Linked DNA regions of Homo sapiens: region 1 is linked to region 2. Evidence: fine-mapped expression QTL. A gene starts in region 2. The other region holds a variant in brackets. All regions are shown on one strand. Distances are from middle to middle.

Region 1 (4,383 bases), 75 kb after region 2:
TGTGGCCTCCTGTACCCCCTGGAAGTGTCTTAGAGACCTCAGGGTCTGCAGATCTCCTTTGGGGAATTACTGCTCAACGCTTCTTAAAGGCAGGGATTTTTGTCTGTTTTGATCACTGCTGTATCCCCTGTGCCTAGAACAATGTTTGGCACATAATAGATGCTCAATAAGTATTTATTATATGAATGCATAAATAAGTGACTGAATAAATGAATGTGGTGACATCTGTAATTACTTTCAGCTGCTTGGAAGTAGAACAATTTAAAAATTCAAAATATTTGTAGTTTTGGTATAATTTAGAATTATAGAATCTTAAATATTTAATCAGGAAATAAATTATTTCTTTGGCAAAAGCATTTAGCTGCAGGGATGGCAAACGCAGTGGGGAACTTTCAAAACCACCCCAATGGTGTCGGCACAGGACAGCAACATTCTTTAGCAAAGGAAGCAATTCCTGAAAACGGGAACACTGCCTGTGACCTAGAAATGGGGACCAAAATCGGGAGAGGAGGACAAGACACTAATAGTTCACATTGCTGTCCCACACTTGCTTTCCCAACACAGTGTCTGGGAACATTTCATAGATTTGGAAGGAATTATGCATAAAATGAACAGGGAATTAGAATATAAGGTGGGACACACAGGAATTCATGAGTAATTAAAACATTTTAAGTTTTTGTTGTTGTTGTTTTGAGATGGAGTCTCATTCTGTCACCCAGGCTGGAGTGCAGTGGCACAATCTCAGCTCACTGCAACCTCTCCCTCCCAGGCTCAAGCAATTCTCCTGCCTCAGCCCCCTGAGTAGCTGGAACTACATGCACGCCTGGCTAATTTTTGTATTTTTAGTAGAGATGGGGTTTCACCATGTTGGCCAGGCTGGTCTCGAACTCCTGACCTTGAGTGATCCACCACCTCAGCCTCCCAAAGTGCTGGGATTACAGGTGTGAGCCACAGTGCCCGGCCCAACATTTTAAGTTTTGAGAACTAAATTATGTATTTGGGACTAACGTCTTTATCCCAGAAAGAGGCCGAGGCACCTCAATATATGATTCACACACTGAGAGTGATATAGAAGTGGATTTTAATGAAGGTGATATAGTACAATAAACTGCAGCATAGTAGGTGAACTAGCTAATAAAATATTCTGGTTAGTAGGGAGTTATCATACAGTTTGCTATTTTTCAATGAATAAGAATTCAGTAAATACACCATCCTTAAGCTGAAGACTCCAGTCATTATTTAGTGACTCCAGAGGCACTGCAGAATCTCACTCTACTCCAGGGAGTCATCAGCAGAAAGGATTAATCAGTTAAGGGAGGTCTGGTGATGGGATTTAATGAGCACACAAATTACCCACTCTTTAGTTTCTGGTCCAAGTTCTGTCGCTTGGTAATTAGCTGGCAACAGGTAAATTCCTGAGCCCTTCTATAATTCAGCTTTTCCCTTCTCTTTTCCTTAAATTCAGGAATACTTAAGAATACAAATGTTTGTGAAATATTTTGGGTCCCTTGAATATACCAAATGTAAGGAGTTATAAGTGGGATTTATATAGAGATAAAATATCCCAGTAAACTTTAAATTGCCAAGTCTGAAATAACAATCTGTAAGTTTCTTCCACCCTATAGAAAACCTCTGAAGTGCAGGCTGGGCGCGGTGGCTCACGCCTGTAATCCCAGCACTTTGGGAGGCTGAGGCAAGCGGATCATGAGGTCATGAGATCGAGACCATCCTGGCTAACACAGTGAAACCCTGTCTCTACTAAAAATACAAAAAAATTAGCCGGGCGTGGTGGCAGGCGCCTGTAGTCCCAACTACAAGGGAGGCTGAGGCAGGAGAATGGCGTGAACCCGGGAGGCGGAGCTTGCAGTGAGCCGAGAT[C/A]GCGCCACTGCACTCCAGCCTGGGTGACAGAGCGAGACTCTGTCTCAAAAGAAAATAAAAGAAAACCTCCAAAGTGCTTCCCATACCCGTGCATCTACCTGGATCTAGCAATCCTGGGACTAAGACTGAAACCAAAGCTAGCCAGCCTAGTAATTTCTGAGTAGTTTACAATAAACACTTTAGGATCTATATCACTTGATCCTCACAGTATGTGTAGGAAAAACCATTTCTGTTCTTCAGACAAAGATAGGTTTGAAGAAACTGAGTGCCCTAACCAAGAGGCAGAGCTGGGCTCAGAAGGTCCTGTGAGCTCTGTTATCTTTCCACTGTGCACCTTGCTGTGCTGAGAGGAGGAAGACAGAGGTGGTCCCAGTAGTGTTTCTGAAGCCGCAGCAGTGGGCAAATGGTTATCCAGCTTCCCTGGGCCCTGAACAAACAGTCCTGCCCCACTCACCTGCAGCTTCACAGCGATGACCACTGAGTTAAGATCTTTGTCCATTTCTTTTAGCATGACGAGTTTCTTCAGGGTCAAGCTGAATAGCCTAGAAAAACAGAGAAGGAAGATGCTGTCATATGCGAGGAACTTGCGAGAAAAGTGATGAACAATTGGTTAGGCAATCTGCCTTACCTGAAGTAAGAATGTGAGAACGCTGTCCTCAGTCCCAGGGGTCCCCTCTCTCAGTAGAAGAGCATCCCCTCTTACTTAATGTTTATACTTTTAAGAGATGGGTCTCACTATGTTGCCCAGACTGGAGCCCTGGGCCCAAGGATCCTCCCCGTCTTGGCCTCCTGAGTAGCTGGGACCACAGGCACATGCCACCATGCCCAGCTTCTAAAGTTAAGTGTCAAAAGGTACATTATTGCATGAACTTCCATGGATATCATTCATCTCAAGCCAAAGGCAAAATATTCTCCATGCCTAGTATGTTGGAGCCATTTCTGAGGGGGAAGAGGAGACCAAGGGAGGAGAATCACACAGTTCCTCTTCTACTTTCCACCTGATCACACCTGACAGATGTACAGATGTAAATCTTTAGCAAGAGGAGATAATCCACACAAACAAAACATACATCATTTGGCAGGAAATAGTTAAATGGTCACAAATTCTATTTCAGCTGCATTTTGCTCCAAATATGCAGAAAATCTTCAGTGCCACAAATCAAGAAATTCCCCGCAACTCAAAAGTGACAGGATTGTCCCTCACTGTGGAGTCTCAGTAACTCTGCTCTGACTTTACCTTGGCCTTACCACAGCAGGGCCACCCTGGACTTCCAGCAGGAGTGGGAGGGAGACTCTGGAAGCTGCCTTTCTATGGCTGCCTGGGTGGTCAAAGTCTTTACACATTCTTCTCCTGGGAGAGGTTCTGGGGAACGGTACACATGAGGGATGTTGCTTACCAGAGTCATGACAAGTCCAGAGAATCCGGCTGGATTTCATACCTCTTTTTTCCTCCGTGCTGAGGCCCTCTAGGCCCTGCTCAGGCCCCTGTCTTGCATCTCCACAGCCCTCCCTCAGCTCCAGCCACACTAACTTTCCTTTGGCTCCGTGGCAGTGCCACCCTCTCTCGCCTCAGGGCCTTTGGAGGCTGCTGTTCCTTCTGTTGGCACCACCCTGCCACCTAACGCCTCCTCAGCCTTGGGTTATGCATTTTTGCCAGGAGAACTTCCCCCGATGCCTTGCAAAGTCTGTGATGTGTCCCCAGCACAATTCCTATCATGCCACTGGAGTGTAACTTCCGGCGGGCAGGCAGCAGGCTTGCCTCTCCACCGCTCTCTCCCCAACATCTGCCCAAATGCTGGGCACAGTATATAGTTGCTCAGCAAATATTTGTTACATTAAGTTTCCTAAAATGGCTTCTAGCTAAAATCAGATTAACAAGAGTATGTGAAGAAATTAATATAATTCATGTTTTGTTTTTTTTTTAAAGGAGGACAAATCCAGGTCAACAGAACTAAATTCTGGTTTTGAATTAACCTCACTCAAGAACTTTCTTTCTTTTTTTTTTGAGACAGAGTCTCACTCTGTCTCCCAGGCTGGAGTGCAGTGGCATGATTTTGGCTCACTGCAGCCTCCACCTCCCGTGTTCCAGCAATTCTGCTGCCTCAGCCTCCTGGGTAGCTGGGATTACAGGCACCCACTATCATGTCTGGCTAATTTTTGTATTTTTAGTAGAGACCGGTTTCACCATGTTGGCCAGGCTGGTCTCGAACTCCTGACCTCAGGTGATCCGCCTGCCTCGGCCTGGCAAAGTGCTAGGATTACAGGCGTGAGCCACCACGCCCAGTCACCCAAGTACTTTCAAAGATCTGCTGACTAACACAAAGAAAAACAAATAAATCTCTTTCTTTGCTTTAAGCTAGAATCAAAATCAAATAAAATGTATGAAAGCTTATCAGGTCTCTTCATCTATATCATTTTACCTAGACCTCAAAAACAGGACTGTGTGGATGTGTGTTGGGGGGCTCACTGTTCTACGCATGCAACAGAAAAACATTTCAAGTGGAG
Region 2 (4,383 bases):
CGTCTCTCTTTTCTTTTGTTTTTTCGAGACAGAGTCTCGCTCTCTCACCAGGCTGGAGTGCAGTGGCACGATCTCGGCTCACTGCAACGTCCGACTCCCTGGTTCAAGTGATTCTCCTGTCTCACCCTCCAGAGTGGCTGGGATTACAGGCATGCGCCACCATGACTAGCTAATTTTTGTATTTTTAGTAGAGACGGGATTTCACCATGTTGGCCAGGATGGTCTCGATCTCCTGACCTCGTGATCCACCCACCTCGGCCTCCCAAAGTCCTGGGATTACAGGCCTGAGCCACCGCACCCGGCTAACCCCATCTCTTTGGAGACAACAACAACAACAACAACAACAACAACAACAACAACAACAACAAAAACCTGTTATGAAGTCACCAGGAAGAGGTGGTCAAGTTGCAGTGAAAATTGCACTTAAGGCTGGGTGCAGTGACTGACACCTGTAATCCCAACACTTTGGAAGCCCGAGGCACGAGAATCATTTAAGCCCAGGAGTTTGAGATCAGGCTGGGAAACATATCGAGACCCTGTCTTTACAAAAAATTAAAAAATGTGCCAGGTGTGGTGGTGTGCCTCTGTATTCCCAGCTACTCAGGAGGACAAGGCAGGAGGACTGCTTCAGCCCAAGAGTTGGAGACTGCAGTGAGCCATCGTCACGCCACTGCACTCCAGCCTGGGTGACAGAGAGAGACCCTGTCTCAAAATAAAAAAAAAAAAAGGCAAAAGGTAATCACATTTAATATACTTGAGTTCCAACCTGTGGACGGACCCTGTGTGAAGTACTTTAAATGCATCATCTCATTTAATCTTCACAACAGTTCAATGAAGTCAGTTTTGTCATTGTCAACTAATGAGGAAACCAGAGGCCAGAGAAGGGAAGTGACTTGCCCTAACTTACACAGTTTATCGCTTTAAGACTCAAACCAGGTTTCTCAGACTCCAAAGTCCCTTCGAGAGCCTGCTGGTTCCCTTCTCTGTTCCCCTCCCAATCCAGCTCAGAGCTTCACCCTTCCCCAAGGAAATCTGAGACCTGGATGTGGAGTAGAAAAAGGAAGTGGCAGAAAAGGAAGAAGATAACTGATACTTGGGGAAAACTATTAGTCCTGGGCATGAGATGTGGGCCACCTACCCGCAGGGGGAGTGACCAAGAGTGAGGAGAGTTTGAGGACCAGAGAATCCCACAGGAAGGGGGAGAGCAAATTCCATATTCATCTAAACTTCACAGGCAGTGTGACAGCCAAGGGAAGGGGTGTGACGGTGGCGTTGGGGGCCTGAGCAAAAGCGAGGAGAGGGCGGGAAAGGACGGACCGGCGGGAGCGACAGGACAGCGCGACCCAGGCAAAGGGTAGGAGGCAGCCCCGGAAGAGAGGACCTGCGGGAGACGCGACCCAAGCGGCGCTTCGGGGCCTCCCGCGTAGTTGGCTAGCTTCTGGGCCGGCCCCAGGAGCCGGGCTTCAGGAGAAAGAGAAGGGTAGAGGGATTCACTGCCCGACCTAAAGGGCCCAAGCCTGAACCCGAGACCAGAAACTATCAAGACGGGCTCCAAAACTCCGGGACAGTTGTCAAGCAGCAGGTGGGGAAACTGAGGCCTGAAGTGACCGGGACTGCGGGGTCATCTGACCGATAAGGCCTGGTAGGACCGATGTCTCGAGCTCCAAGAGCTGCCCCTGGGGGTCGCCACGTCTGGGCCCCGGGTGCGAGGGCTCGGGGTTTTGAGCCGGGGTCCTGGGGCCCCTGGGGGGAGGGGCAGAACCCGGATGTGGGGGGGGGTCAGCGGAAGAGGGACCCGGATGTGGGGGCGCCGCACAGTCCTGACCCGGGCCAGACAACCCCGGTAAGCGTACAGCCCTGTATTCGGGATCGAGGCTGCGCTGGACGGCGCGGGCGGGGCTCACTCACTATTCGGGGTTCATGGCGGCGGCGGCGGCCCGCTCGGTCGCTCCCAGTCGACTCTGCTCCGCCTCCCGTTCCAAGATGGTGGCCGCTCCGCCCCAGAGGCCCCGCCCGCGACGCGCAGGCGCAAACGTCTTCTTCTCAGGCCTCGCCGCGCTGATTCCCGGAACTTGTAGTCTAAGACGTTCTCCAACTCAGCCCCGCTGCGCAGGCGTAGTCGGGGAGCCCGCGCCTCCGCGCCCACTCCCATCACTGCTGGCGCATTGCCTTCTGGGGCTTGTAGTTTGCACTCCGGACGCACTCAGGCTTGAGGACAGTGCTGGAAAGCCTGACCGCGACTCGGTGTTTAGAAAGCTCAATTTAGGGCTGGGCTTGGCACGTTTCACATCTGTCTGACGGAGGTAGTCATCCTTGCCCTCCCAATACCCACGTTGTGAACATTAAATGAGAATGTGGGTTCTAGTAAGACTAATAAAAGTACATTTGTCCAGGGTTCTTCGTGTACTGGGCAGTCCTAACTCGCAGCCGCGCGTCATCACCCGCATTTCATAGATGAAAAAACTGAGTCTCGGGAAACTCACTCAAGGTCAAAAACTTTGTGAGGAGCAGAGCTCATAAGAGCCCGCGGTCTCCAGAACCCCACAAGTGAGTGTTTTAGGGAAAGCCTGACTTGTGGGCCCCTCACGCAATTCCGGGGTGGGGCACAATATCTGGGCCCAGCTGCGCGGACAGCGGTTGAGCGAGACACACTGTCCCCCACTCACGCACGACCCTTCCCGGCTCCACCCCAGTCTAGAGACGCTGGGGGCCCCCGACCTCCGTCTCAAAACAAGCCCAGCTCAGATTTAAACCGTCTTTATTTCTACAGCAACATCTGAAAATATGAGAGCAGCCGCCTCACCCGCAACAGGGGGAGCCCCTCCTGCCACCAGGGGACCGTCGCCGCCCCTCGCGAGAAGCTGCAGGCGTGGGGGGAGGCGAGGCAGGATGGCTCGGTGGGCGGTGCCCGGGGCGGGGTCGGCCGTGCCTGGGCGGGGCCGGGTGGGAGGGGCAGTGCATAAGGCCGGGATGCGGGGCAGGGCCCGGCGGTGGGAGGACGGACTAAGGGGAGGTCCCCGTCCTGGGCCACGGGGCGATGGCGCGGGTAGGACGCATCCCTCAGAGGCCAGGAGGAGCGCGAGAAGGTCCCAGGACCCCCTTGGGAGGCGCCGCTCCCGAGAATGTAGAGCCTGGGAGATACCACCGCACGGAATGGGGGTGATTAAGGCCTGGGCGGTACCACTAGAAGAGGGACGAGGGGAGGCCCGGGTAGTACCGTGGACTGAAGGGAGGCGCGCGGCCAATAACTTATTTCTCTATATACAGAAGCAACGGCCGGGTTGAGTCGGGAGGGAGGGCGAGGGTGCCGAAGGGCCGGCGAGTGCTTAGTGTTCTTGGCTCTGGGGTCTGGGGAGGCCAGGCCACTGAGTCTATGGTGGAGACTCCAGCCGGCACCTCCTGCTGGCCCGAACCTAGGGAAGAGGGCCCTGCTGGAAGGAATAAATAAGGGATGGAGCTGGAGTGGGCAGGCCCAGCCTCCAGGGCTCAGGCTGAGATGACAAGGGAGAAGGTTACCCTGAGATTGAACAGAAAAGACAGGGGCTGTGGGAGAGACAGGCGGGACAAGCAGCAGGCCCATGCGCAGGGCTGGGGTGAGGGGGGTGTGCCAGGTGGGCGCTCTGGTGACTGGCTGCCCCTTCAGCATTAGCCCACCAGGGAGCTTCGTCGGGAGAGGTCCATGGAGCTGGAGCTGAGAGTGCGGCTGTCAGAGAGACCTGTGCCTCCAGGCTGTGGGCAGAGGGGGCAGGTGGCTCAGCCCTGTGCTGCTGCCAGTCTGTGCCTCCCTGGCCTGAAGGGGTCTGACCTGGCAGAGGCAGCCGGAATCCCTGAGCTGGGCAGAGGCAATGGCAGTTCTGACCCAAGGCCACACCCTGGTGCCCTGACACTCCCGTCCATCTCCACAGTGACGGTGTTAGCACTGGCCGTTTACACGTCCACCCCCAGGAGAGGCTGGGTTCCCCTCGTGTCTCCCCGTTGTCCAGCCCAAAGTAGGCCTGAGACAGAGCCAGGAACTGTTGCTGGATGAAGAGGCATGCTGGAGGGAAGCTTGGCAGCACGCATGCAGCCCCGGCCGCAGCTGCCCAGTGCCCAGACACCCGCCTGCCCCTACCTGGGTCGGCTCTTCCACGCTCTTGTTGAGGAAGTTGAGGGAACTGGCCCGCTTCATCCTGAGGGAAAAGGACAGCCTGGGATTTGCCCAAGGAGGAACTCACGGGAGATGGGGGCAGGGAGAAGGGTGGGGCTGGGGAGGGAACAGACTGGTGGGTGGTGGAGCCTGAGAGGGATGGGGAGGTTGCCTGGGGTCAGTGGGGCACACTCTGGGTCAGGAGCTCATCCGGGGTTGCTGGGTGGTTCTTGAGGCTCACCTTGGTGGGGGGCTCA

Evidence for each region. PIP is the estimated chance that this variant, and not a neighbour inherited with it, causes the effect.
Region 1: its variant is the best candidate, but not a certain one, in a credible set for the expression of RAB1B in whole blood (INTERVAL, PIP 0.79).

What each region holds. Positions count from the first base shown.
Region 1 is chr11:66,191,523-66,195,905 of GRCh38, reverse strand. It overlaps PACS1 (phosphofurin acidic cluster sorting protein 1), which reads right to left. Exons shown (of 24, transcript NM_018026.4): 2 at 2,333-2,420. Among named protein-coding and RNA genes, the nearest start is that of KLC2, 64 kb to the left of the region's middle. The variant C/A (reference allele first, on the strand shown) is at 1,879.
Region 2 is chr11:66,266,219-66,270,601 of GRCh38, reverse strand. RAB1B (RAB1B, member RAS oncogene family) reads right to left here and starts at 1,963. Exons shown (of 6, transcript NM_030981.3): 1 at 1,909-1,963. The coding sequence starts at 1,922. It overlaps KLC2 (kinesin light chain 2), which reads right to left. Exons shown (of 16, transcript NM_001318734.2): 15 at 4,112-4,169; 16 at 2,742-3,729. The coding sequence ends at 3,646. KLC2-AS2 (KLC2 antisense RNA 2) reads left to right here and starts at 2,191. Exons shown (of 3, transcript NR_186342.1): 1 at 2,191-2,303; 2 at 2,394-2,547; 3 at 2,771-3,053. RefSeq lists enhancers at 863-1,744, 1,905-2,234, 2,355-2,404, 2,705-2,754, 3,511-4,383 and silencers at 2,865-3,184, 3,205-3,254.